7 linked regions of the Homo sapiens genome follow. The protein of the gene in region 1 interacts with the protein of each later gene in a pairwise test. Each region holds a gene or a part of one and is shown in the gene's direction. Other genes may lie near its edges. The genes, in order: MYL2, MYOC, IRX6, ZNF529, TRIM63, GJB5 and LRSAM1.

Evidence for each region.
Region 2: the proteins of MYL2 (region 1) and MYOC interact in binary tests that used the Homo sapiens proteins (3 or more experiments, as listed by UniProt).
Region 3: the proteins of MYL2 (region 1) and IRX6 interact in binary tests that used the Homo sapiens proteins (3 or more experiments, as listed by UniProt).
Region 4: the proteins of MYL2 (region 1) and ZNF529 interact in a two-hybrid assay, tested with the Homo sapiens proteins (one large-scale study listed by BioGRID and IntAct).
Region 5: the proteins of MYL2 (region 1) and TRIM63 interact in a two-hybrid assay, tested with the Homo sapiens proteins (one study listed by BioGRID).
Region 6: the proteins of MYL2 (region 1) and GJB5 interact in a two-hybrid assay, tested with the Homo sapiens proteins (one large-scale study listed by BioGRID and IntAct).
Region 7: the proteins of MYL2 (region 1) and LRSAM1 interact in a two-hybrid assay, tested with the Homo sapiens proteins (one large-scale study listed by IntAct).

The regions. Positions count from the first base shown.
Region 1 is NC_000012.12:110,910,580-110,914,079, reverse strand, and holds the end of MYL2 (myosin regulatory light chain 2, ventricular/cardiac muscle isoform), read left to right. Parts: intron 1-755; coding exon 756-834; intron 835-935; coding exon 936-984; intron 985-2,904; coding exon 2,905-3,003; 3' UTR 3,004-3,235; downstream 3,236-3,500. UniProt on the Homo sapiens protein: Contractile protein that plays a role in heart development and function.
Region 2 is NC_000001.11:171,639,189-171,642,688, reverse strand, and holds part of MYOC (myocilin precursor), read left to right. Parts: intron 1-3,500. UniProt on the Homo sapiens protein: Secreted glycoprotein regulating the activation of different signaling pathways in adjacent cells to control different processes including cell adhesion, cell-matrix adhesion, cytoskeleton organization and cell migration.
Region 3 is NC_000016.10:55,323,023-55,327,002, forward strand, and holds the start of IRX6 (iroquois-class homeodomain protein IRX-6), read left to right. Parts: upstream 1-1,180; 5' UTR 1,181-2,069; coding exon 2,070-2,114; intron 2,115-3,313; coding exon 3,314-3,571; intron 3,572-3,980. UniProt on the Homo sapiens protein: Transcription factor. Binds to the iroquois binding site (IBS) motif of target genes to regulate gene expression; functions as a transcriptional activator or repressor. Modulates expression of RCVRN, VSX1, BHLHE22/BHLHB5 and TACR3/Nk3r.
Region 4 is NC_000019.10:36,570,493-36,574,644, reverse strand, and holds the start of ZNF529 (zinc finger protein 529), read left to right. Parts: upstream 1-1,352; 5' UTR 1,353-1,505; exon of another isoform or gene 1,506-1,602; intron 1,603-2,252; 5' UTR 2,253-2,298; coding exon 2,299-2,312; intron 2,313-4,152. UniProt on the Homo sapiens protein: May be involved in transcriptional regulation.
Region 5 is NC_000001.11:26,050,801-26,054,215, reverse strand, and holds the end of TRIM63 (E3 ubiquitin-protein ligase TRIM63), read left to right. Parts: intron 1-251; coding exon 252-323; intron 324-2,332; coding exon 2,333-2,343; 3' UTR 2,344-2,915; downstream 2,916-3,415. UniProt on the Homo sapiens protein: E3 ubiquitin ligase. Mediates the ubiquitination and subsequent proteasomal degradation of CKM, GMEB1 and HIBADH.
Region 6 is NC_000001.11:34,753,684-34,757,846, forward strand, and holds the start of GJB5 (gap junction beta-5 protein), read left to right. Parts: upstream 1-1,363; 5' UTR 1,364-1,512; intron 1,513-3,623; 5' UTR 3,624-3,647; coding exon 3,648-4,163. UniProt on the Homo sapiens protein: One gap junction consists of a cluster of closely packed pairs of transmembrane channels, the connexons, through which materials of low MW diffuse from one cell to a neighboring cell.
Region 7 is NC_000009.12:127,454,510-127,458,009, forward strand, and holds part of LRSAM1 (E3 ubiquitin-protein ligase LRSAM1), read left to right. Parts: 5' UTR 1-18; coding exon 19-90; intron 91-488; coding exon 489-545; intron 546-1,066; coding exon 1,067-1,111; intron 1,112-2,806; coding exon 2,807-2,884; intron 2,885-3,500.

The DNA.
Region 1 (3,500 bases):
AAAATAATGAAAACAGCAACTTGGCTGGGCGCAGTGGCTGATGCCTGTAATCCCCAGCACTTTCAGAGGCCGAGGCGGGCAGATCACTTGAGGTCAGGAGTTCAAGACCAACCTGGCCAACATGGTGAAACCCCATCTGTACTAAAAACACACAAAAAAATTAGCCAGGCATGGTGGTGTGCACCTGTAGTCCCAGGTACTCAGGAGGCTGAGGCGGGAGAATCCCTTGAACCGGGATGTCAGAGGTTGCAGTGAGCTGACATTGTGCCACTGCACTCCGGCCTTGGTAACAAGGTGAGACTCTGTCTCAAAACAAAACAAAACAAAACAAAAACACAGCAACTAACATTGCTCCAAGACTTAACCTAAGTCAGACCTCATGCTAACCACTTTATATGCATTACCCCACTTAATAGCAACTAGGAGGTATGCTCTATTCTTATCACCAGTTTACAGATGGGGAACTGAGACTAAGAGACAGAAAGTCCCTTGTCTGAGGCCACATGGCTAGCAAGTGCCAGGGTTAAGATTTGAATCCCAGGCTTTCAAATCTAGATGATGTTTGACCTTGGGTTCTCAGCCCTCTCTTCGAAATACAGAGGCTCAGTGATCAGACGAAAGCAGGGTCTTTTTCCTCCATGCAAAGCAGCCTTGCTCTGGCCCCTTCATCTCTGGGGGAACTTGGGCCCTGCTGCCTGGGGTGCCAGTGGTTCCCAGCCACCCCCAGTACATGTAAGCCCTGTGTTCCGTTTCAGGAGCGGACCCTGAGGAAACCATTCTCAACGCATTCAAAGTGTTTGACCCTGAAGGCAAAGGGGTGCTGAAGGCTGATTAGTGAGTGGGGTCTGTGGGGGAGGAAGGGGGTTCCCTGCTTGCCCCCTGTCCCCCCTACACACACACAACTGACACCAACACCTGCTTTCCTTTCTCTGCAGCGTTCGGGAAATGCTGACCACGCAGGCGGAGAGGTTTTCCAAGGAGGAGGTAATGGGGTCCTTCAAGCACTCCCTCTAACCCAGCTCCTGGGTTCTCCTTCTGGGGGGCTCCGTCTCCCCTCTCGTCTAAAGCACCCCTGACCCCACACTGACAGAGAACCAGCTATCGTCTTCTGAGGCCTGGCCTCATTTCATTCTCTGCCACCCTATGAGGTAGGGACTGGCATAACTGCCATTTTACAGATAGGCAAACTGAGACCCAGGGAAGTAAAGTCACTCATCTAAAATAACAATAATCACACCTGTAATCCCAGCACTTTGGGAGGCCAAGGCAGGAGGATCACTTGAGACCAGGAGTTTGAGACCAGCCTAGCCAACATGAGGAAACCCTGTCTCTACTAAAAATACAAAAATTAGCTGGGCATGGTGGTGGACGCCTGTATTCCCAGCCACTCAGGAGGCTGACGCATGGCACGAGAATCGCTTGAACCCGGGAGGCAGAGGTTGCAATGAGCCAAGATCATGCCACTGCACTCCAGTCTGGGCAACAGAGCAAGACTCTGTCTCAAAAATAAAATAAAATAACAACACTAATAGTAAATGCCAGGACCTAGATTCAAACCTAGGTCTGCGTGACTGCAGGTTCTGCCTTGCTCACGATGCATAGAGACCTGCTTAGAGCATGACATTATTATGGCGTGAAGGGCCGCCACATACTGTCATGTGAGTTGTGCACTGAACAATTCTTCTAAATGTCAGTTTCATAAAAGTCATCAGACTGTGTATTTGTTGCAACAGCTTTCCAGAACTGGCAGTAAAGTGTCTGGTAATAATTTTTTTTTTTTTCAACTCAGGTGGTGCGGTAGTGAGTTTGGTAGAAGGGGCACTTTTGCTAATTTGCCAAAGCTTCTGTATGAGCAAGCAATGGTGCCGTCAACCTTATTAGTGAACCTTAATGAGTCGATTTTAAATGCTCCCCTCATAGCCTCACAGGCCTGTTTCCATCAAGTTCCACATTTTACTAAAAATTGTATGTAGATTTTCCCTCCCCCAAAATTCAAGCAGCTAAAAGGGCTGCCTTCACTTTCCACCTGCTGTGTGCTTTGAACAAGCTCCTTAACCTCACTGCACCTCAATTTCCTCATCTGTAAAGTGGGAATAATAATAGAAGCTACCTCATAGGAGATTGCGAGGATTCGACATGTTAATGTGGGGAAAGTGTGAACTTGTGGCAAGGGCAATATAAGTGCTAGCTATGAATAGCCAGTATGTTTTAAAAAAATAATAATAATAACTAGCCAATGCTTTTTAAATGGGGAAATTTTGTGTAAAAACAAAAATCTAGATTTCTGACACCCTGGACCCTGTGGTCACTTCATGTCACCTTTTTAGATGGCCACGTGTCTCCATTTAGCCATAGGACCTATCCTGCTCCCTTGCATAACCTGCCTGGCCCCTCGGAACCCTTGAGTTTGTGATCCCAGTGGAAGGCTGGGTTTCCAGGGACATCTCTGCATGATGTTTACTTGGGAGGGCCCTTGGGGTCAGGGAAGGAAGAACAGGGAAGGGCAAGAAAGGAAGAACAGGGAAGGGCAAGGAAGGAAAAGTGCATGAAGGAAGAAGTTGAGCCAAGATTTAGGCCCAAAGATCGGCACTGCTGACTACCCAGGGAGGGAGCTTATTCTACAGCTCTCCTGAGAGGTACCAAGTTGGGCGAGATGGCCGTGCCTTTATACCCCCACACCAATCCCATCCGCTGGCTGTGGGCTGCCCCAGAAAGGGCATGACCTTGGGCGAGGGGGCCCTGCAGCAGCTGGGGAAGTCCTTCCCCGGAGGACCCTCTGAGTGGCCCATGTTCCCATCCCCCACCCCCCAGCTATCCGTCCACTCAGGCCCCGCCCACAGCCCCCCACCCTCCGTCTCAGTTCCCCTCCCCTCGTCCTTAGCACGTGTTGCTGGCTCATTGCAGGTTGACCAGATGTTCGCCGCCTTCCCCCCTGACGTGACTGGCAACTTGGACTACAAGAACCTGGTGCACATCATCACCCACGGAGAAGAGAAGGACTAGGAGGGGGCTCGCTGCTGCGCCCTGGGCTCGTCTTTGCAGAGTGGTCCCTGCCCTCATCTCTCTCCCCCGAGTACCGCCTCTGTCCCTACCTTGTCTGTTAGCCATGTGGCTGCCCCATTTATCCACCTCCATCTTCTTTGCAGCCTGGGTGGCTATGGGTACTTCGTGGCCGCACATCCTACAGTTGGAAATCCATCCAGAGGCCATGTTCCAATAAACAGGAGGTCGTGTATTTGGTCACGACATTTCTCTGACAAACAGTGCCTTGTGTAAGGAAGGCAAAGGCAGATGAGCTAGTGACAGCCTTGCAGTCATTATTATTGAATCTTGGTGACTCTTTATTTAAGGTAGACCTTTGCAGCCACTCAGAACTGTTTCTATCAAGGATCACGTTTTCCTGGAATGTTACCTGGATGACCAAAGCCCTCTCTTCCAAAGAGCTCAAGCATTTAGAGGGCCTTGCTTCCATGACATCTGTCCCTTGGGATGCCATCGGA
Region 2 (3,500 bases), on another chromosome or scaffold:
GCACATTGAGGATGTCCTCAGTTACATATACATTTTGGCTTATGAGTCTTTCTTTTTTTAATTTTTTTTTTTTTTAAGACAGGGTCTCACTCTGTCACCCAGACTGGAGTGCAGTGGCATGATCATGGCTCACTGCAGCCTTGCCCTCTTGGACTCAAGAGTCATCTTCCTGCCTCAGCCTCCCGAGTAGCTGAGACCACAGACTGCACCACCACACCCAGCTAACTCTTTAATTTTTTGTAAAGATGGGGTCTCGCTATGTTGCCCAGCCTGGTCCCAAACTCTTGGCCTCATGCAATCCTGCCACCTCGGCCTCCCAAAGTGCTGGGTTTACAGGCATGAGCCACTGCGCCTGGCCAGCTTATGGGTTTTAACTACTTACATGGTGCACTCTAGACTGAGGGATATCCCAGGGATGGAGGACCCACCCACCTCCAGGGCATTAACACTTTTAGGGAGGCTAACAACTGCAGCCACACAGAGGCAGGGGTGGAGAGGAGAGAAGGGTAGCTGGGATCAGGGGCAGGCAGCTGCAGCAGCTACTGAGCTGGCTCACTGTGGGCAGCATGGCTGTCTGGCCCAGCCTGCACCTGAGAGCTAGCTGAATGTTTTCTTCACCTCCTTCCAGGGAGAAATTTTTTCCAGTACTATAATTTGTTGAAGCTGAACCCCAGCAACTCAAACAAGGTACCCTGACTCTGGAGATGTGAAAATGTAAAATAATGTGTGGCTTTGATGAAATGTGGTAGAACCAGAGGATTAAGACTTCTGTGGTGATCCTCTCTGCCTGAAATCTAAATTTAGGAGAGCTGAGCAAACAAATGATCAAAGGCAGAACATGTCTTCCCGACCCTCTCGGCTGTGTAGGCGCTCCGGCCTCAGGGGATGCACTGACTTTCCTCCCACTGTCCTGAACACCTGAGAATCCTGAGCGGGGAACAAGTTGCTCAAAGGGCAGAGAAGTGACTCAGAGGTTCAGCAAGAGAAAAGCCCAGTGTATTAAGCATGTCTTTTTATTCTGATGCTTTGCTGTCTGGGCCTTGCAAACGTGAGAGGGACTGCCCCTCCCAGGGGTAGCCAGTTCCTACGGTTAGCAAAGGACTCACCTGGGAGGACAGCTTTCATATGCAAACCAACCAATCCAGAGCCCACACCCTGTGACCACCTCCATCTGGCTCAAACTCAAGGCCACTGTCCCCCTGACCTAATCACCCAGGGCCTGGTACCAGACAATTAGAGATAACTCCTGTGACCCCAGATCCTGCTGAAATTATTCAAACTCCCCAATCCTAAACCTGCTTACCCTGCCTCCCCTTTCTTTCCTTCCCATGGAAAGAATAAAGGCGCTTTCCCACATTTTCCCCTGGTGCCCTCTTCTGGAGCAACCCTGGTGCTTCCCCAGGTGGCCTCCTGGGCTTAGTGTGCCCCCTTCCTCTTGGGCTCTGTGAGTACAACAACTTGTAAAGATAATTTTTTTTTAGAGCAGTTTTATGTTCACAGCCAAATTGAGAGAAAAGTACAAACAGTTCCCAGATACTACTGGCCCCCACACATGCACAGCCTCCCCGATTATCATCATCTCCCGCCACAGCAGTTGTTACAACTGATGAACCTGCATCAGCACGCACAACACCCAAGGTCCACGGTTTAAATTAGGGTTCATTTTTGGTGTTGCGCCTTCTATGGGTTTAGACAAATGCATAGTGACATGTGTCCACCATTATAGTATCATACACAGTATTCATTGCCCTAAAAATCGTCTGTGCCTCACCTAGTCATCCCTTCCTCACCCAACAACTGCTGATCTTTTTACTGTCTCCATAATTTTGCTTTAACTTGCTTTTCAGTGACAATTGCCTCCTGGGATGTTGGCCTTGCCACACCTGAATAATCATCAAACCTGCATTTTATTTGTTTTTATGTGTATGTGATGGGTTTTTTGGGAGGTTGGAGGGGAGGACAGGGTCTCACTCTACGCCAGGGCTGGAGTGCAGAGGTACGATCACTGCTCACCACAGCCTTGACCTCCCGGTCTCAAGTGATCCTCCCACCTCAGCCTCCCAAGTAGCTGGGACTGCAGGTACACATCACCACCCAGGCTAACTTTTTGTAGTTTTTGTAGAGATGGGATTTCACCATGTTGCCCAGGTTTGTCTTGAACTCCTGGGCTCCAGTGATCTGTCTACCTTGGCTTCCCAAAGTGCTGGGATTACAGGTATGAGCCACTGGGCCTGGCCAAACTGCATTTTAAAATAGCCAAGCCTGTTCCTTGTGACTATTGCCTCATCCTTGTATTCAAGACTGCTGTAAGATCATAATCCTAAGCAAGAGTAGAGACATGTAGCACACCATGATCACTTACTGTCTAACCAATGCTGCCCACCCGCTTCCCTTCTGTATGGCTCACCACCCCCACCCCAAACTCCTATAGGAACTCTGCACACACTCCCTCTCCATTATGCAAAACTGGTCTCAGAAAGGAATCAGACAGAATATTTCTACTGAAAGTATAAAGCTTAATATGTTACTTCTTACAAGAATATTTGCATATAACAAGGGAAAAAACCTTAAGTCATGCAGTAAACTTTTATCTTTTTTTTTTTTTTAACAGGAGTCTCCCTATGTTGCCCAAGCTGGTCTTGAACACCTGGGCTCAAGTACTCCTCCTGTCTTGGCCTCCCAAAGTGCTGGGATTACAGACATGAGCCACACTTCTTTTTTTTTTTTTTTTTTTTTTTTTTTCTTGAGACAGAGTCTTGCTCTGTTGCCCAGACTGGAGTACAGTTGCACAATCCCGGCTCCCTGCAACCTTTGCCTCCTGGGTTCAAGTGATCCTCAACCTCCTGAGTATCTGGAACTACAGGCATGTGCCACCACACCCTGCTAATTCTTGTATTTCTAGTAAAGATGGAATTTCACCACGCTGGCCAGGCTAGTCTTGAACTCCTGGCCTTAAGTGATCCGCCTGCCTCGGCCTCCCAAAGTGCTGGGATTTCAGTGTGAGCCACTGTGCCCGGTCTCTTTTTTTTTTTTTTTGAGACCTTGAGACCGGGCCTTGCTCTGTTACCCAAGCTGGAGTGCAGTGGCAGGATCATAGCTCACTGCAGCCTTGAACTTCTGGGCTCAAGCAATCCTCCCACATCAGCCTCCCAAGTACCTAGGACTGCAGATGCTTACCACCATGCCCAGCTAATTTTTCATGAATTTTTAATTATTGAAATTCAGACATCTAAGAAGATGCTGAGGACTGTCTCCATATTCCTGAAATTACGACTCACCTATTCACAAACCAGCCCTTCTAGTGGAATTAAAATATTATTTGATTTTGAATACCCTACTCTAAGGTAGGCACATTGCCCTGCAATTTATTATTTATGAGGTTTTTAATTATGGAATTGTTCAAATATTCACAAAAGTAGAGAGACTACAATGAACTCCAATGTAGCCATCACTCAGGCCCAACTGTTATCAGCACAGTCCAATCATGTTTTATCTTCCCT
Region 3 (3,980 bases), on another chromosome or scaffold:
CAGTGTAAGGTGCTAGTGGCAAACTTGGAGTTGAGGTACGCCCCGTCCAGGACCCCAGACCTTGCCCCGCCTCATACAAGAACCCAGAGCCGTTGCTATCTTCTGGGCCACAGGCTCTCGCGTTTCAACTAGAAAATAAAACTGGGCCCTTGAACCAACCCCTATGGCTCCTTGGAGGAGTTGCAGCAAGAGCCTGGTGCAACTTTAAAAGTATAAAGCGCTTTTAAAAGTATAAAGCGCGGTGACCCCGGTAAGTGAAAGGCAAGGCTTTCTGAGGTTTCTGGCCTGCAAATCCCACTGGATTCCTGCAGTGCCCACCGAAGACCTTCCCCTACCAGACCGACAGTCCCTTTTCACCCCTAGACGTCGCGGGTTGGAGGCTCTCAGAAGGGCAGCTGGGGCCAGAGTACTGAGCCTTCAGATGTGCAGTCTACCGTGCTCGCAAATTGGAGGTTCCATGTCTCGGGGCCAGGCCTAGAGGAGGCAGCCCCTTCCTGGGTACCAACGAGCCTCCCCCACCCCTGCCGCCGCCCACCCATCAGTGCCCCTTTGAAGACCCCTGGGATGGAGTGAGGGGGTGGTCAGACCGCTGGGCCCAGCCGGGCGTCCAGGAGGAGCGCAGGGAATGGGCCGCCCTCCCGGAGCGCTCCACTGCGGCTCTCCAGCGCCACCCCCAGCGGAGCGCAGGGGCTGCAGCCCGGACCGGGAGCCTTCTTCAGGCTCCCTGGCTGCCCCGCGGCCACTGCGGGAGGCGCGCGCGCGAGGCAGCCAAGCCTTGCCTTCGGAGGAGATGCCCAGGGATCTTAGCAAGCAGCCTGCGGCTGCCAGGGATCGGACCTGGCGAGTTTCCCGACGGAATCTGAGGGATCCCGAACCTCGGCCTCGAGGGGGCGCTATCCGGCCTACTCGAGGACCAGGCAGCTGCAGAGAAGCTCCAAGGTCAAGGCCCTGGGCCAGGCCAGGGCTTGGAGAGCCGGAATCTAGCCCGAGTCCTGGGGAGGCTGAGGCGGGGAACCAGATCCCCGAGGACAAAGATGGGCGGGCCAGTGGGATCCACCGACGCTGCCCGGAGCTGCTCCAACGAGAGCCGGGCCTGTGGCGTGAACAAACTTTACTTCAGCGCAGGGGCGGAGGAACCGGGCTGGAGGCTTCTCCCCCGGGCCTCTGCTCTCCTCCACCTGCCAGTGCTCAGCCTCCGCCCAGCCTTCGCCCACCCCAGCTCCCTCCCCCTCCCCCACGCGCCTCTGTTCACTCAGACTCCTGTCTCCCCTCTCCCCTCCTCCTTCTCCCTCTTGCCTTTCTCCCCCACTTTTCTCCTGTCTCTTCTTTTGTATTCTCTCCTCCCTCGCCGCCCCGGTTGCCTCTCGCCTCCTCCGGGCCGCAGGGGAGGAGGTGAGCGCGCTGCGCCCGGGGCCTGCGCGGCTCAGAGGGAGGCGTTTCTCCTACTTCTCCCGGGTAATTTGGAGAGGTTGTGTGTGTGTGCGCGCGCGCGTGAGCTCCAGGCGAAAAGGGGTAGGATTCAGCGCCGAGCAGAGAGGGTCAGGGTTTTTGACGTTCCTCGCCAGCTGCACAAACCTCCCGGAGCAAGTGTGAGTGTGGGTGAGAGTGCGCGCGCGCGCACGGGCTGGCTGCGCTTGGCACGCTTGGTGGCCCAGGGTCCCGGGGCCCGGGGTCCCGTCTGGCGGCCCGGGATTACCGTGACGTCACATTGAGCCTCTGGCCACCTTGGACTGGGACACCTCCGGAGCCTCACAGCCCCGCGCCGCGCCGCGCCTCACCTCGCCACCACGCGCCTTTGGGAACCCGCATCTTCTTCCTTCCCCTGCCCATCCATGGGCCCTTCTGTCTTCCGGACCCCACGGGCCGGAGGGGCGCCTTCCGGAGCGCAGGGCTCGGCAGCCGGGCTGCCCTCGGCTCTGCCTCCACTGGGGCCAACCAGGCGAAGGAACCGGCGCTGGGCATCCGCAGCGGTGTAAGGAACTGAGACACCTCACTGCTGGGGGCGCGGAACAGCTGGGCTGAGACGGGAACTCGACAGGGAAGAGAGAGACGGGCCAGGGACAGCCACCATGTCCTTCCCACACTTTGGACACCCGTACCGCGGCGCTTCCCAGGTAAGAGGCGCCTCTATGGGGGATAGGGGACAGACTGGGTGGAGGGAGTGCCTAGTGCACGGCGCCTGCCTCTGATCATCCTCCTCTTGTGTTCTGGGGGAAGCCAGAAGGAGCAAGGACCAGGGTAATGTGTCACAGCCTCCTCTGACATCCCCAGTCCCTAAATGAGAACGTTTCACCCCGGAGTGCACGCTGGAAAATCTTGTGACCTGAAACATGAGCACTCTGACCACGCGCTCAGTGAGGTGGGTGGGATCACAGGGATCTCCCAGTCAGGCCTCCTCCTATACAGAAGTCTGAGGTGGCCGGGAGAGAAAGAAAGAAAGAAAAGAAAGAAAGAAATAAGGAAGGAAGGAAGGAAGGAAGGAAGGAAGGAAGGAAGGAAGGAAGGAAGGAGAGAGAGAGAGAGAGAGAGAGAGAGAGAGAAAGAAAGAGAAAGAAAGAAAGAAGGAAAGAAAGAAAGAAAAAGAAAGAGAAAGAAAGAACTTGTAGGCTACAACGCTGTCCATCTCACCATATTGTTGTTGATTTGTTGACCTCGGCTATTCTCCTACCCCTTCCTTGGGCGGGCCCAAGCTCTCCGGTTCCCTCGATTTTCCAAACCAAAGTGGATGTTGTGCAATGACAAGGGTTTCCTGGGAAAGTTCTGCGGACACCCCCTCCACTGTTCTCCAGCTTTTCTCTAGAGTTCTGAGTGTATTTTCCTGTTGTCTAGTGCCGGCTCGACCTTTGACCTGCTGTGTGATCTTAGACAAGTCTCACACTCTCTCTGATTATCCACTCCCAATCTATAGAATGGGAGCAGGAATGAGACGTTAATAATGGTCTCTAAGGCCACCTTCTAGCTCCGCCTTTGCAGGATCCTGGGAGGAGGGTAGGGAAGGGAGCAGAGGGTTTGGTGTCTTTAATTCCGGTTTCAAAATGTTCACATTTTCCCGGCCTCCTGGGGCTCTGGGGCCTTAGCAATGGAGTAGGAGCATCTATAAGGGCAGTTTGGTTAATTTATAATTCCCGTCCCAGCACCTAACAGAATGCTCAGCCCAGGTGGCATTTAGTTAATGCATAATGAAGGAATGAATGAAGGAGCAATCTGATTATCTGATTTTCTCTTCTTTGTTTCTAGCTCCCTTCAGCGGGAGCGGGGGCGGGGGTGGGGGGGGGGTCTCTGACCTCCAGTGCCCTCTTTCTTGCCCCTATAGTTTCTGGCGTCGGCAAGTTCCAGCACCACATGCTGCGAATCTACCCAACGCTCTGTCTCAGATGTGGCATCAGGCTCCACCCCAGCGCCCGCTCTCTGCTGCGCACCCTACGATAGTCGACTGCTGGGCAGTGCGCGACCGGAGCTGGGCGCCGCCTTGGGCATCTATGGAGCACCCTATGCGGCCGCTGCAGCTGCCCAGAGCTACCCTGGCTACCTGCCCTATAGCCCAGAGCCCCCCTCACTGTATGGGGCACTGGTGAGTACAGGGGTGGAGTCCCAGGGGAGTGAGCAGTAGAGACAGGTGAAATCCAGAGAAAGTCAAGGAAAGACCCACACCTCCCGAGGAAAGGAAATGGTTAGGACTGTGTATAAGGAGGACAAAAAAATACAGTACCTTACAGTTTGCAGAACTTCATACTGTTTAGAAAACATTTATACTTCTATTAATTCTGTGAGGTAGGCAAGTAATCATTAATCTCAATTTAAGAATGAGGAAATAGAGGTGCACAGGAGTTCAAATACTTTGCCCAATGTCACAGAGATACAAAGGGTCAGAGAAAAGCTCCTGAAGAAGATTAAAGCAGGAAGTGCCCCAGCTGGTGTGTGTTGTGGGGCAGGGGGCGGGGGGTGGGGGGCAGTAAGGGGGGAAAGGAGGGAGGGACAAG
Region 4 (4,152 bases), on another chromosome or scaffold:
ATCAGAACTATGGCTGTCTCTGCTTTGAAACTGACTGGAAAGGACACCAGCAAACTCCGGTGGTGCTGGTGTTGTAAACCAAAAATAAAATCCTAAGCACACCCAGACCATCTTGAATGGACCCCTCCTCTTGGCCAGGGCATTCCTAACCTGAAAAACTAGTAAAGCCATGATGGAAAGGCGGGGGTGGGCGGGTCGGACATGCTTCATTATACCCTCCTCCATTTTGGAATTACTGATAGAAAAGACCCCAAGTCTGAAAAGAAACATTTACAATCTATTCTCTGTGAAGCGTGCTACCTGGAGACATTCCTAAGTCTTACGTCAATAACTCTTTCAACCCATTGCCAATCAAATAATCTTTGAATCTACCTATGACCTGGAAGGCCAGCCACCTTCCAGCTGTCCCGCCTTTCCGGAGGGAATCAATGTACATTTTACATGTATTTGATTGGTGTCTCATGTTTCCCTAAAAGGTATAAAACCACATATATCCCGTCCACCCTGGGCACAGGTTCTCAAGATCTCCTGAGGGCTGGGCCACCGGCCATTGGTCACTCATATTTAGCTCAGAATAAGTCTCTTCAAATACTTTAGAGTCTGAGTCTTTTCGTCAACAGTGTAAAACACGCCCTAAGGCAGACACACACACACTGAACCGCCGCTACCTGCCAGATTCCATCTGGGGCCTTTCTCATGGTGCAAAACGGACAAAAACTCCAAGTCACCCTCAGGTTTACGACCACGGGTCACATCCTGAGGCCCCCACACTTAGAAGCCAGAGTGGAGCAAAACCTCGCCCGACTCAGGCTCCGAGTTCTCCCCTCGACCCTCCCCAGCCTAAAGGCTGTACCCGCTTCAGGCCTTCCCAGCCCGGCCCTCCAGTTCCTTCTTCGGCCTCCCTCAGCCTGGGGTCCGGGTTTCCTCCTCGGCTGAGCAGCCGGGTCCGCGACTCCCTTCACCCTCCCCGGCCCGGGCTTCCGGTTCTTTCCAGAGGTGAGGCAGGGGCCACCTAGAATTCCGCGGCCCCCCACCTCCCCCAAGACCACCCTCGCCCCAGCTTCCTGTTCCCCATTCTGTCCTCCCAACCTGGGTTCCCGATTACTGCCTCGACTTCACCTTGCCGTCAGGGACCACCAGCCGCCTCTTCCGCGCCTAGGGGACGCGCAGCGGCAGCCTCTGCTGATGGCAAGGGTCTGCGCACCCGGAAACTCCAGGGTCTGGGGCGTGGTGCGGCCCCTGCGGCCAGCGGGCTCCGCTTGAGCTTCAGGGCTCTTTCGTTGTTGGACTACGTTTCCCACAGGCCTCAGGGCCGCGGATGAACTTCGACCTTTGCTTCCTTTTCCGGTGTTGTGGTTATTGAGTTAAGCCTGGCGAGTCGAGGTGACCCGGGCCGGGCTGCGGGAGGAGCTCGCGGTGAGGTGGCCCCGCGCTGCCGGGCGAGGTCGGTCCACGTGGAGCCGGGAGCCTGAGGCCTCTGTACGCGGGAGCTGCGGACGATGGTGGTTAGTGCTATTGTTTACGACGTCATTGTGGTGTGTGTGTGTGAGAGACGGAGACCCTAGTGTGTGCCGTGGGTGCTGTTTGATCGGACTCAGGACGGTGAGTAGGGGCGGGGTCTATCGTGTGACCCTGGTCTACGGTGACGTGATCGTGTGACAGCACTGTTGTGACCAACTATAAGTGTGAACGGGGTAGAAGTGTTTTTTTGTTTTTTTTTGTTTGTTTGTTTGTTCGTTTTTTTCCGTGAGCCTGTAGGAGTTTGTTTTGGGTAAAGCGTCATTTTTCCGACTCTGTGATGTCTGTGATGGAATCTCTTCGTGAGGTCTTATACACACACACACACGCATATAGATAGATTACATAGATGATATATAGAAGATAGATAAATGATAGATAATAGATAGATAGATAGATAGATAGATAAGATAGATAAATGAAGTTTCCTGGGAAGACGTGAAGGGGAGGGCATAGGTGTAGTATTCATTCCTGGGATAACTCCCCTTGCATGAGTTTGGAGGCCATTTATACATTAAAGAACTACAGTATTTCCTGAGCTGTGTTCCCTAGAAACTGCTAGGCATTGGTCGTACCTTTTTCTCGGATGTGGGGAGGAGTCGACAGTATTCTAGTTTCCCTCTTCGATCTGGGTGTGTTTGTTGTGTGTGATGGGCTTTTCTGGTGGTGAACACTGTGTTCTTATTTAACCAGTCCAGGATGTCATGAGTCCTTTCTCCCTCTTGGTTATGTAGTTCTGCAAGTGAAGGCCCCCTGAAGTGGAAGACAGCATTGGTACTAATGGCCAACTCAAGGTTAGTTTTTTTTTTTGTTCATTTACCTGGTCCCTTGGTTTTCTCTTCCCAATTAACAACAGGACCGTAGAGATGGGTCCCCTTGTCCTCCATTGCCTTTCCAAATGCCCATTTCCCTTTCATTGAATATTCACATATGCATTAGGTAAATCATTCAATTCTCCCATGTGCTTCTTTTTTTCCAAAGGATTTTTATGGTATAGAAATACAACTCCTGGAGGAGAAGTTAAAACTTTTTTTTAGAATGTAATTTGTTAAGGAGGAGACGAGTGATTAAGTAGAATGGCACACTAGATACCTTTGATCTTATTTACAGACTTGATTTGCAAACAAAGCAAGATAGGAGATGGTAGGTATTAATCAGTAAGTGACAAAGTTGGCTTTGGAGACATTTAGGAGTGGGAATATGATAGGAGTTTTATGCAGAGAGGCTATGTCAACAAGGGCAGGGAGTTTTTCCAGAACATTCATGAGGGGATTTAAGTGGTGACAACCAAATCTTCTTTGAGATTTGGCAGTGTGACATTGGTGTAGATTGTGAGAGGCAGCCTGATACAGTGGTGTCTGAGTCTAAAGCAGCACAGTCTAATGCAAATATAATATAAAGCCACTTAGGTAATTTAAAAATTTCCATTAGACACTTTTTTTTTTTTTTTTGAGACAGAGTTTCACTGTTATTGCCCAGGCTGGAGCGCAATGGTGCGATCTCAGTTCACTGCAACCTCTGCCTCCCAGGTTCAAGTGAGTCTCCTGCCTCAGCCTCCCAAGTAGCTGGGATTACAGGCGCCCGCCACCATGCCCGGCTAATTTTTGAATTTTTAGTAGAGAAGGGGTTTCATCATGTTGGCTGGGCTGGTATCGAACTCCTGACCTCAGGTGATCCACCCACCTCATCCTCCCAAAGTGCTGGGATTACAGGCGTGAGCCACTGCGCCCGGCTTTAAACACATTTTAAAAAGAAAAAGAAACAGCTGAAGTTAATTTTGGTAATGTATTTTATTTAAACCAATATATCCAAAATATTATTTCAACATGTAATGATATGAATACACTGAAATACTTTACACTCATATCTTTATACCAAGTTTTCAAAATCTGGTATATGTTTTATTGTTATTGCATGTCTCAATTTGGATGCTAAATTTTCAGTGTTTAGGGTGAATTATAGTCCTACCAAAACAATAAAGTTGTGTTTAATAGAAAAACATTTATATTGCTTTTGTATTTAAATGTAAGTTAATTAAAATTAAAGGTAATCCTGTGTTAATTAGCTTAGGAAAAGTGAAAAAAATTTAAAATTCAGTTATATGTTCACACTGCATTTCAAAGGGGTTAATAGTTACTCATTTTTCCGCTTTACAGTTTCTTGTTGTAGAATGTAAACAATAATTATATCAGTGCTTTAGGGTCTTTATGAGGCCTGGATACATTAATATGGACATAAACCTAGAGAATTTAATAAAGGCCTGGCACTTTAAGTCCTTATCTGCAAGGGAAGAAAAAAAGCTGGTTTGTGAAGATTCTTAGTATTCCCCATACATTTTCTGTAAATCAAGAGCAATGAAAATATAAAGTTAATTTTGATGGGCACTTGAAATGAATTTTTTAAAAGCCAGATTTGCAAATGTTCTATTAAGGCAATTTGACTGTCTTAGGTTCAATGATTTGCGAGAAGGACTCACAGAACTCAGAAAAGCTGTTATGCTCATAGTTATTCTTCATTACAATGAAAAGGTACACATTAAAATCAGCAAAGGGAAAAGTTGCATAGGGCAAATACCGGGAGAAACCAGGTGCAAGCTTCCAGTGCAGTTGCACAGGCAGCACCTAATTCTCCCAG
Region 5 (3,415 bases), on another chromosome or scaffold:
TTGCTGGAGCAAGGAAGTGACTTGAGCCCAGCTCCCTGGGACGGAGTGCGGGGGATTGCAGGAGCAGGGCCTCTGTGCAGCGTGGGTCTGGCAAGCCCATCCCCTCCCAGACCACTGCCGCCGCTGTGTGGCCGTTTGACCCGACTGGGCACAGGAAGGGGTTTAGACCGTGCTCTCTCTTGCCTGGTTCCTCTTCAAGTAGCTCCTCAAGGAACCGGCCCCATCCTAACACAAATGTTTTTTTGTCACAGATGAGGAAGAGGAAGAATTCATTGAAGAAGAAGATCAGGAAGAGGAAGAGTCCACAGAAGGGAAGGAAGAAGGTAAGAAATTCATCTACCTCCATTCCTTCGTTCCTTCATTCATTCCACAACAATCTGAGGTGCCTACTGTATGTGAAGCACTGTGTTAGACATTGGCAATGACGCTCAGAACTGTCCCCAGCACGTGCTTTAACCCTACTGAGGGTAAAGTCCTGTTCTCTTTACCCTTAGAAAAGAAAAAAACCCCAAACTATTCATAATAAAATGCTCCCATTTCACATCTAAATGATCTTCTTAAATGGAAAGCAATATGGCACAGCAGAGGGAAAAGACAGGGGCTCATGAGCTAGGCTGGGCCCATTGAGGTGTTTTGTTTGGCCAGCACTGTGTTTAAATTAAAACAAACAAACAAACAAACAAAACTACTTGCTGGACAGGCACGGTGGCTCGAGCCTGTAATCCCAGCACTTGGGGAGGCCAAGGCCAGCCTGGCCAACATGGTGAAACCCTGTCTCTACTAAACATACAAAAAATTAGCTGAATTTGGTGGCAGGCGCCTGTAGTACCAGCTACTTAGGAGGCTGAGGCAGGAGAATCGCTTGAACCTGGGAGGTGGAGGTTGCAGTGAGCCGAGATCGTGCCACTGCACTCCAGCCTGGGTGACAAGAGTGAGACTCCATCTCAAAAAATAAATAAATAAATACTTGCTGGCTGGGTGTGGTGGTACGTGCCTATAATCCCAGCACTTTGGGAGGCTGAGGCGGGAGGATTGCTTGAGACCTGGAGTTTGGGACCAGCCTGGTCAACAGCAAGTCCTCGTCTTTACAAAAATAATTTAAAAATTAGCCAGGCATGGTGGTACATATCTGTAGTCCTAGCTACTCGGAAGGCTGAGGCTGGAGGATTGCTTGAGCCCAAGAGGTAGAGGCTGCAGTGAGCTATGATTGCGCCACTGCACTCTTGCCTTGGCAACAGAGGACACTACACTGTCTCTTAAAAGAAAAAATTAATTGCTAACATTTTTAAAATTAGGTTTTTTTTAAGGGTTAAGAAAAAGGAGATTTGAACTAAGAATCTGCATTTTCACCTTGTGAAAGTTTAGAAAAAGCAAACAATGCTGGACTTGAACTTCCTTGTAGTCCCAGAGTGCTGGCTCTGGGCAGTGGCTCTCCCCTTTAAAGGGGACACGCTGGCATGGTGGCTCACGCCTGTAATCCTAGCACTTTGGGAGGCCGAGGCAGGCGGATCACCTGAGGTCAGGAGTTTGACACCATCCTGGCCAACATGGTGAAACCCCGTCTCTACTAAAAATACAAAAATTAGCCAGGCGTGGTGACGGGCACCTGTAATCCCAGCTACTTGGGAGGCTGAGGCAGGAGAATCGCTAGAACCCCAGGGGGGCGGAGCTTGCAGTGAGCCGAGATCACGCCACTTCACTCCAGCCTGGGCAAAAGAGTGAAACTCCATCTCAAAAAAAAACAAAGAAAAGAAAAGAAAAATGGGACATGCCCTTGCCAGTTTGCCCAGCCCCACCACCACCAGTCCCGCTTGCTTCACTCATTCATGTTATCTGCTGGCTCCTTGTAGGCATCTGAGTTTGCCAGCCTGGCAGAGTTTGATTAGGAGCCTGGGTTCTGAATCACAGCAGCTCACAATTTCTCTGAGTCTTGGGCTACTCATCTGTGTATGGGGGTCTAACAGTACTGACGTCAAAAGGTTGTAGTGGGAAGTGAATAAGATAATCGTTTAGCACGGTGTCTGATGCATAGGAAGGACGTTTGCTAATTAGCACATGCTTGCAAATGTTATTTTTCAAACCACAGGTACTGAAACTAAATTCCAATCCAGTTGAAAACTATAGGTAGTCTTTTGGAGTTTTGTACTGATGTACAATCCATAATATTTGGGCAGCTAAATTCTATTTTGGTTTTAAAAGGAAGAGACCGGGAGGAATTGGAGTTTGATGTTTTATTCAAACTCCTGTTTGAATAAACAGTAGCTTGGTAAGCCTTGGATCCTCCTGAGTCCCTGTCTCACCCCTTGCCTCTGTATCTTTTTCTTCATTTCAGGACACCAGTAAGGAGCTGGATGAATGAGAGGCCCCCAGATGCAGAGAGACTGGAGAGGGTGGGGAGGGGCCCAGCGGCCTTGGTGACAGGCCCAGGGTGGGAGGGGTCGGGGCCCCTGGAGGGGCAATGGGGAGGTGATGTCTTCTCTCTGCTCAGAGAGCAGGGACTAGGGTAGGACCCTCACCGCTGCGTCCAGCAGACACTGAACCAGAATTGGAAACGTGCTTGAAACAATCACACAGGACACTTTTCTACATTGGTGCAAAATGGAATATTTTGTACATTTTTAAAATGTGATTTTTGTATATACTTGTATATGTATGCCAATTTGGTGCTTTTTGTAAAGGAACTTTTGTATAATAATGCCTGGTCGTTGGGTGACCTGCGATTGTCAGAAAGAGGGGAAGGAAGCCAGGTTGATACAGCTGCCCACTTCCTTTCCTGAGCAGGAGGATGGGGTAGCACTCACAGGGACGATGTGCTGTATTTCAGTGCCTATCCCAGACATACGGGGTGGTAACTGAGTTTGTGTTATATGTTGTTTTAATAAATGCACAATGCTCTCTTCCTGTTCTTCAAAGGAGCCGGGGTTTCATTCAGCCTTTTTTTCCTGGAGATGAGGGTTGAGTGTGAATGAACAGGACCCCTGGTAGGAGGCAATGGCAGGGCTAGGCTTAGGTCCCAGTAAAGGAGTTCTCGACACCACCATTTCCCAATGTGGACTCCATGGAAAGCCAGCCCTGAGCTGGTCCTTCAAGAACAGGTTCAATGTGTTGTTGCTCTGGTTCTCCAGAAAACAGAGCCTGAGGCAAAATTTAAATGCTTTAGTTGCAGGTTATAGGGACTTCCCCGTGCTCACTGAAGGCTCACTGAAGGCTCACTGAAAATCATCAAGAAGAGGCAGATTAAGGCTGGGCAGGTGCAGTGGTTCATGCCTGTAATCCCAGCACTTTGGGAGGACAAGGAGGGCAGATCATCTGAGGTCAGGAGTTCCAGACCAGCCCGACCAACATGGTGAAGCCCCGTCTCTACTAAAAATACAAAATTAGTTGGGCGTGGTGGCGCATGCCTGCAATCCTAGCT
Region 6 (4,163 bases), on another chromosome or scaffold:
CAGGTCCTTCATGGTCTGGAAGGTCTTTGCTGACCTTCCAGGCTCCTTGCCATGTGGTGTCCCCACCACTACCCAGCCCACTCTCCAATGCTCTTCCATTATTTTTCACAAAGGTCCTCTGCACGCTATGTGCCCACTGCCTCAAAGGCCCCTCCTCAGCATCTCTTCTTGGTAAACTCCTATACATCCTTCAAGACCCAGCTTAAATGTTACCTTCTCCGGCTCTCCCTCTGGCAGAACTTAAAACTCCCTTCTCTCTCTGTGTCTTTTCTAGGACTTCTCACAATGTTGTAACTGATCTCTTTATATGCCTCCTCTCTCCTGTACTTGGCAACAGCTTTTTGGAAAGAGCATGGAGTATAGAAATGTGTGACTCTCTGCAGGGTGTGTGCATTTCACACATCATTCATTCAATAAATATAAATTGAAGCCTAACTGGACAAGACACCAGGCACCATACTAGGCACAAGGGATAGAGCAGTGAATAAAATAAAGCCACTGCTGCATGTGTGTGCAACACTGTGCCCATAATTGTGGCCTGTGTGTAAGAGTATGCTCATGTGAAGCTACATTGTGTTTGCTTGTGGACATGAGGTGTTTGTGGCTCCTGGATGCTTTGTCTGTTGAATCCTGACCCCAAGTGACCTGCTGATACAGGGCACCTTGGAAGTCAATTAGGCCAAAAGACCGTGTCTGTGCACTAATGAGAAGCTTTCCCCAGGTGCCCCTGCCCACCTTCTCCACCTCTCCTGTGGTTCCTGCCTGGCTTGGGTTTGGCCTTTTTAACCCAAAGACAACATGCATCCAAATGAGATTTTCTCTAGTGCATACGTCTCTCTCTCCCTCCCTTCTCCTCTGCCTTCCCTGTATCTCAGAAAGAAAAGGCCTAGGAATAAGGAAAAGGAGGAGGAAGAAACATTTTTTTGAGGACATACCATGCGGCAGGCCTGTGCTGGGCAGTATACACGCATTATAGGCAATTGTAGACAGGGCTTCCCTTGTGTCAGGCACTGTTCTAAGCACTTCACCCCTAAGGCTGGGTTAATCCACGTATCCACCCTATGAGGTAGGTGTTGTTCTTTTCCCACTTTCACAGAGAAGGCAAGAAATCACACAGTGAGAAAGTGGCAGAGCTGGGATTCAGGCCTCAGCTTCTCCCACACAAGCCCACAGATGGGAGGATGAACAAGGAGTCAGAGTGGACCTGTGGCTCTCCCCTGAGAGGATACCAGGATTCGAGGCTCAGCGCCCTGGGAGGAGTGAACCCCTCAGTTTCCTGAGCCTCATCAGAAGCAGTCTGGGGAGGCTGGGGCCCAGCCAATGGCAGTGCAGGTCCCAGCTCCTCCTCCTCCCAGGCTGGGCCAGCACACCCGGCAGGCTCTGTCCTGGAAACAGGCTTCAACGGGCTTCCCCGAAAACCTTCCCCGCTTCTGGATATGAAATTCAAGCTGCTTGCTGAGTCCTATTGCCGGCTGCTGGGAGCCAGGAGAGCCCTGAGGAGTAGTCACTCAGGTAAGGGCATCTGTGTCCGCATGTGCCCTGCCCCTTGGCATACGTGGCAGGAGGACACTTCTCTGCTGGGGAGTGGTGGGATGTGGCCTGGACACATCTGCCACCCTGGGTCCTGATGGTGGAGGAATAAGGGGCTCTGGGTTCTTTCAGGTCTCCCCAGCCGGGCAAAGGTAGGAGCAGGGGCCAGGCCGGAAGCTCAGCAGGCAGGGTAGCTCTGCCTGGGCCTGCAAAGCCCTGCCCCACTCCTCCCCAAGTAGGGATGGGCTGGGTGAGAGCCCCTGGGGCTAAGGGCGGGGCCTTCCTGGGTGTTCCCTGAGAAGCTGCAGGAGTCCTACCTTAGACAGGACTGAGCATGCAAGATGGTGATTCAAAACAGAGCTCCCCCCAACCCCGGCCCCCACCTCCACCCATCCCCCGTCCAAGTGGCGCAGGTGGTGTGGAGACAGGGTGGTGGGCAAAGGTTCCCCCAGCCACCCTCATCCAGGATCCACACACAAGGGGAAGGACAGAATCCGTCTGCACACAAACAGGCAGGCAGCTCATTGAAACTTGAGGAAAGGGTCTGAGGCCTAAGGCTGGGCAGTTCCCGGAGGGTGGGCTCTAGAGCCAGCCTGCCTGGGTTCAAATCCTAGCTCTGCCACTTATTAGCTGTGTGACGTTGAGCAAGTTAATTAATCCCTCTGTGTTCCTCTTTCCTCATCTGTAAATTGGGAATAAAAAATATGCCCTTTCCTAAGGTTGCTGTGAAGGAATAATGTACTGATTCATACAAAGAACTTAGAGCGGTGCCTGGCACGGCATGAATGCTTCATGGATATTGGCTGTTATCACTACTCTGCTTTGCAGTTGATCATGCAGAGGCTCCAGAGAGCCTGGTGAGCTTCAGCCTGGACCAGCATGGGAAGGCCATCATGAGCCCTTTAGTGGCTAGGCAGACAGGTTCCTTGGGGTCCCAGGGTGCACAGTTGGTTGAAACCACAGTGCATGGGTCTTAATGGACACACCCCCATCTCCAGGAATCAGGCAGAGGACTCGCGGGTGAGGAAGTGGGGACCCCTTACTCTGCCTAGCAGTCACAGTCCTTACGCGGAGGTGAATCTGATTCTGTGAGTTCATCAGGCCAAATTCACCAGCAGAACTGACAGGAGCAGCATTTCCCACTTGATGTCTTGACAAGGCTGTTCCACAAGATGATAAATGTTATGTCAGGAGGAAAAGGGCTTCTGTGGGCAAATGAGTTTGGGCAATGCCACATATTTCATACCTCTTTTGGTGAATTTATTAGTGAGTTTATTAGCACGGTTGAGCAAAAGAACCCTATTTAACTTTACTAAACCCAATGTTTGCCAACTTTTCTTGACACAGAATCCTCTTCTCTCACTTCTCCTATTGCCAACCTATGGGACAGGGTTCCAGGGAACACTGTTTGGGAAACACTGGAATACCAGGTTACTCTAGGAAACCTACTGTATGAAGAGAATTTATTGCTGCCTGCTTTAGCTTTCAGCTGGATTGCATTGAGTGGCACTTGAGCAGGACTCTGCCTGGCTAATTACAGAGTGTTAGACCAGATGGGGGCTTGGGGACAAGGTTCCAGCCTCCTTTCCAGTCCCATCCCTGAGCCAAGAAAAGGACAAAGAGCAGGTTCCCCTGGGGAAGGGGCTGTCTGAGAAGAGGCAGCAGTGCTCAGAAAGGAGAGAACCATCTCAAGGCTCAGCCCCCCTGAGGAGGAGGGCCAGGGTTGAAACAGAGGGAGCAGGCAGAATGTCCCAGCTCCACCAGTCTTCACTCTGCAGAACCTCAAGACCAGAGCCTCAGGCCCGGGGAGGAATGAGTGGCTCCCTGGACCTGCCCTTATCCACTGGTATTGGTAAGAGCTGGGTTCTGGACTTAATTACCTATGCTCAAATCCCAGCCCTGCACCTAATAGTTGTGTAACCTTGTATATAATGCCACTAAACCTCAGCTCCCTCCCTCTACAAAATGGGGACAGTAGTAGAACCCAGCTCCTCTAGTGATGGTAAGGATGAAATGTGATGACATATTTCTACAAAGTGCTCAGAGCAAGTCTGTGATAAATGTAGGAAATGATTGTTCTTGTTTCCCTGCAGTAGCAGCTGACGCGTGGGTCCACCATGAACTGGAGTATCTTTGAGGGACTCCTGAGTGGGGTCAACAAGTACTCCACAGCCTTTGGGCGCATCTGGCTGTCTCTGGTCTTCATCTTCCGCGTGCTGGTGTACCTGGTGACGGCCGAGCGTGTGTGGAGTGATGACCACAAGGACTTCGACTGCAATACTCGCCAGCCCGGCTGCTCCAACGTCTGCTTTGATGAGTTCTTCCCTGTGTCCCATGTGCGCCTCTGGGCCCTGCAGCTTATCCTGGTGACATGCCCCTCACTGCTCGTGGTCATGCACGTGGCCTACCGGGAGGTTCAGGAGAAGAGGCACCGAGAAGCCCATGGGGAGAACAGTGGGCGCCTCTACCTGAACCCCGGCAAGAAGCGGGGTGGGCTCTGGTGGACATATGTCTGCAGCCTAGTGTTCAAGGCGAGCGTGGACATCGCCTTTCTCTATGTGTTCCACTCATTCTACCCCAAATATATCCTCCCTCCTGTGGTCAAGTGCCACGCAGATCCATGTCCCAATATA
Region 7 (3,500 bases), on another chromosome or scaffold:
CTCTGGGAAAAGGGAAGGATGCCGCTCTTCTTCCGGAAGCGGAAACCCAGTGAGGAGGCTCGGAAACGCCTGGAGTACCAGATGTGTTTGGTGAGGGAAAGTGGGTTTCCTCTAACTCTATCCCATCTCCTCCTCGGTCCCCATGGAGTAGGCCTCCGCACTGCCCCCAACAAGCCGTGCTCCTTCCCATCTGCCTCCCCCACCCACAGAAGAAATATTTGACTTAGACCCAACAGATGAGGCCCCCTGCCAAGGGTGCTTCTCCCCTGTAGACTGAGCGCACTGTCATTGCTTTTCAGTTCCTCATCCCTCTGGGCCTCAAGCTCTGGGAAAGCAGGGGTCATTGGTTCACCTGCCAAATGGACCAGTGGAACCAGATAGTGTCTATGGTCCTTTGCAGCTGCTTACATTTATGTTCTTTGCCTGGCTTGTCCACTCTGCAAAGGTGTTTTGTCTTAATACTTTTTAAAAATTCTTTTTATCCTTAGGCAAAAGAAGCTGGGGCAGATGACATTCTCGACATCTCTAAATGTGAGCTCTCAGAGGTAAACTGAGGATAGTGTTGGGCTGTGAATTGGATCTGTCCCGTTTTCTTGGATCTTGTGTCCCTAGGAAAGACAGAGGTGGACTGGGGCTTTAGAAAGGCCAGAAGCTCTAGTCACGAGATGTTTCCTTAGATTTTGTTCTCGTCCAAAATAATTGAAGATGATCCTTTGGCCTCAATATAACGTAGTCTCCAAGAGTCAAGGAGTCTAGGTAGAAAATGTACCCATAGACTCCTACATTGCTGGAAGGGCCTGGCATTCTCCAGCCCCTGAAGGGGTTCACAATGGGGACAGGGTGGGTGGGGCAGGGCAGTCTCCTGCCAGCTGACCGAGGGAAGGGCTGGCCACATCCCCAACACCACTGCTTGCCAGCCTTGCCCCTGGGCTCAGCACTGCCACCTGCTGTGGCGTTTTGCCCTTGTTCACCTCCTGCCTGTCTCTTCCTCACGTGAATGCCACTCAGAGAACAAGCTAAAAACTGGCAGGAGGGGAGACACTTACTCTTCTTTATCTTATCTTAGATTCCATTTGGAGCTTTTGCAACATGCAAAGTTCTGCAGAAGAAGGTAAGATGGAGCTTCATCTTCAGAGACTTTCTTGTTGCATGTCTGCTTGTTTGAACCCACAAGGGACTTTGAGGAGCTGTCTTCCCGGCGTAGACACCTCCTTTCTCTCTGCTTCTTATGCTCTTGGCCTGCAGCAGGTGTTTTCACAGATAGGAGAGTAGGCTTTGGGGTTGGACCTTCCTGTGTCACATTCTAACTCTGCCCTCACTGGCTTCATGACTTGGGCAACTTCCTTAAACTCTTACTTCTCAGTTTCTTCCCCTGTGAAATGAAGACATTCATAGTTCTCCTTCCTGAGGTATTGTGAGAATTAAATGAGTGGTAGATAGCTAGATAGAGATAGAAATATACTGAGTGTACATGCCTACCACGTAGTAAAGGCTTATGAACCCCGGTGTTAGTAATAATAGAAACTCACGCCTTTTATTCTGGTCACCCAGGGGAGATTCAGAGGGGAGTGAATGATTTTTCAGCAGAGCATTGCAGCTTTGAATGCAGATGGGTAGAAGCGCTCTAAGTGAAGTATCTAAATGAGAATATGCAAAAAAAAAAAAAAAAAAAAGTGTTCCCTGCCAACAGAGTAGTGAGCTCCTTGGCGCTGGAAGTTTTGTTTGTTTTTTTTTTTTTTTGAAGACGGACGCTCTGCTCTGTCACCCAGGCTGGAGTGCAGTGGTGCAATCTCAGCTCACTGAAACCTCCGCCTCCTGGGTTCAAGCAATTCTCCTGCCTCAGCCTCCTGAGTAGCTGGGATTATAGGCGCCCACCACCATGCCCAACTAATTTTTGTATTTTTAGAGATGAGGTTTTGCCATGTTGGCCAGGCTGGTCTCGAACTCCTGACCTCAAGTGATCCACCTGCCTTAGCCTGCCAAAGTGCTGGGATTACAGGTGTGAGCCACCACGCCCAGTCTGTGCTGGAAGTGTTGGGCCGCAGTCAATGCCTAAGAAAAATGCAGTAGATTGGCCGGGTGCGGTGGCTCATGCCTGTAATCCCAGCACTTCGGGAGGCCGAGGTGGGCAGATCACGAGGTCAGGAGATCAAGACCATCCTGGCTACCATGGTGAAACCCGGTCTCTACCAAAAATAAAAAAAAAATCAGCTGGGTGTGGTGGCATGCGCCTGTAGTCCCAGCTACTCGGGAGGGCGAGACAGGAGAATTGCTTGAACCTGGGAGGCGGAGGTTGCAGTGAGCTGAGATCACACCACTGCACTCCAGCTTGGGCGACAGAGCAAGAGTTGGTCTCAAAAAAAAAAAAAAAGAAAAGGAAAAATAGCAGTAGATGACCTGGACTGAGCCCTGGCCCCTCTGCCAGCCCTGGAAGTTTTGCGCATGAGCTTTTATTTAACATCATGGCAGCCCTGGGAGGCAAGCACTTTATTATTCTCTATTTTCCACGTGAAGACGCTGGTGCTGGGAAGGTTATGATCAGGATGGCTGCAGGGGGATCCCTTCTCAGATGGAAGGAAGATGTAGACCTCTAAGGTCTCTTTCACCCTTGAAGATCCAGGTTTTAAGGAAGGGCATTAGATTCCCCATTGGGAGAGTTCATGATACTGACCCGCATCCCCGTGGTGGTGTCTGGGAGAGCAAGATGGTGGGGCGTGGCACGGCGCTGGGCTGGCTCCCACGCCCTTAGCCTGCCCTGCCTGCTGCTCTTCCTCAGCCCAGCATGGCCGCACATCTCTCCACACAGGTGCTGATCGTCCACACGAATCACCTCACTTCCCTGCTTCCCAAATCCTGCAGCCTCCTGAGTCTGGCAACCATCAAGGTACTGGGCCCTCCTCCCAGGCAGCTGGGGCTCTGCATGGGGTTCCACGCGGCAGCTGAGCGCCTGCTCCTTTTGGGCTGCCTCTTGCATGTCAGAGGGGCCCAATCTACCAGTCAGTCTGGGATTTGATCAGTATGGTTTACTGGATACTTCTGTGGGCTGTGTGTGGGTTAGGGTGACAAAGATGACCAGCCACAGGCCCTGTCCCTGGGGAGTTTACATGCCAGGAGGAAAGCCAAGTGACAGCCTCATGGCGAGTCAGCTAGCAGAGGGCGAGGAGACTGATGGTCCCAGGCAAGAAGGAAGAGGAGGGACGCGCAGGTGATCTGGAAGGACTCCCTGCTGACTGTGAGCTCCTCCCCGGATGGGCTGGGAGGCATTCACAACATGTGGGAGGTGTGAGCCCAGGGTTGTTATGCGCAGACCTGAGCTTGGGAGAGTGATATGCACCTTCAGAGGAGGCCGGCAGCACAGGTGTCAGCCCAGCAGCACAGGCCCAATCTGTTATACTATATTGTTTAGGGAATAATGACAAGAGAAAAGCCTGTATGTGTTCACTACAGATGCTTTCTTTCTTTTTTTTTTTTTTAATATTTTGCACCTGAGTTTGGTTGAA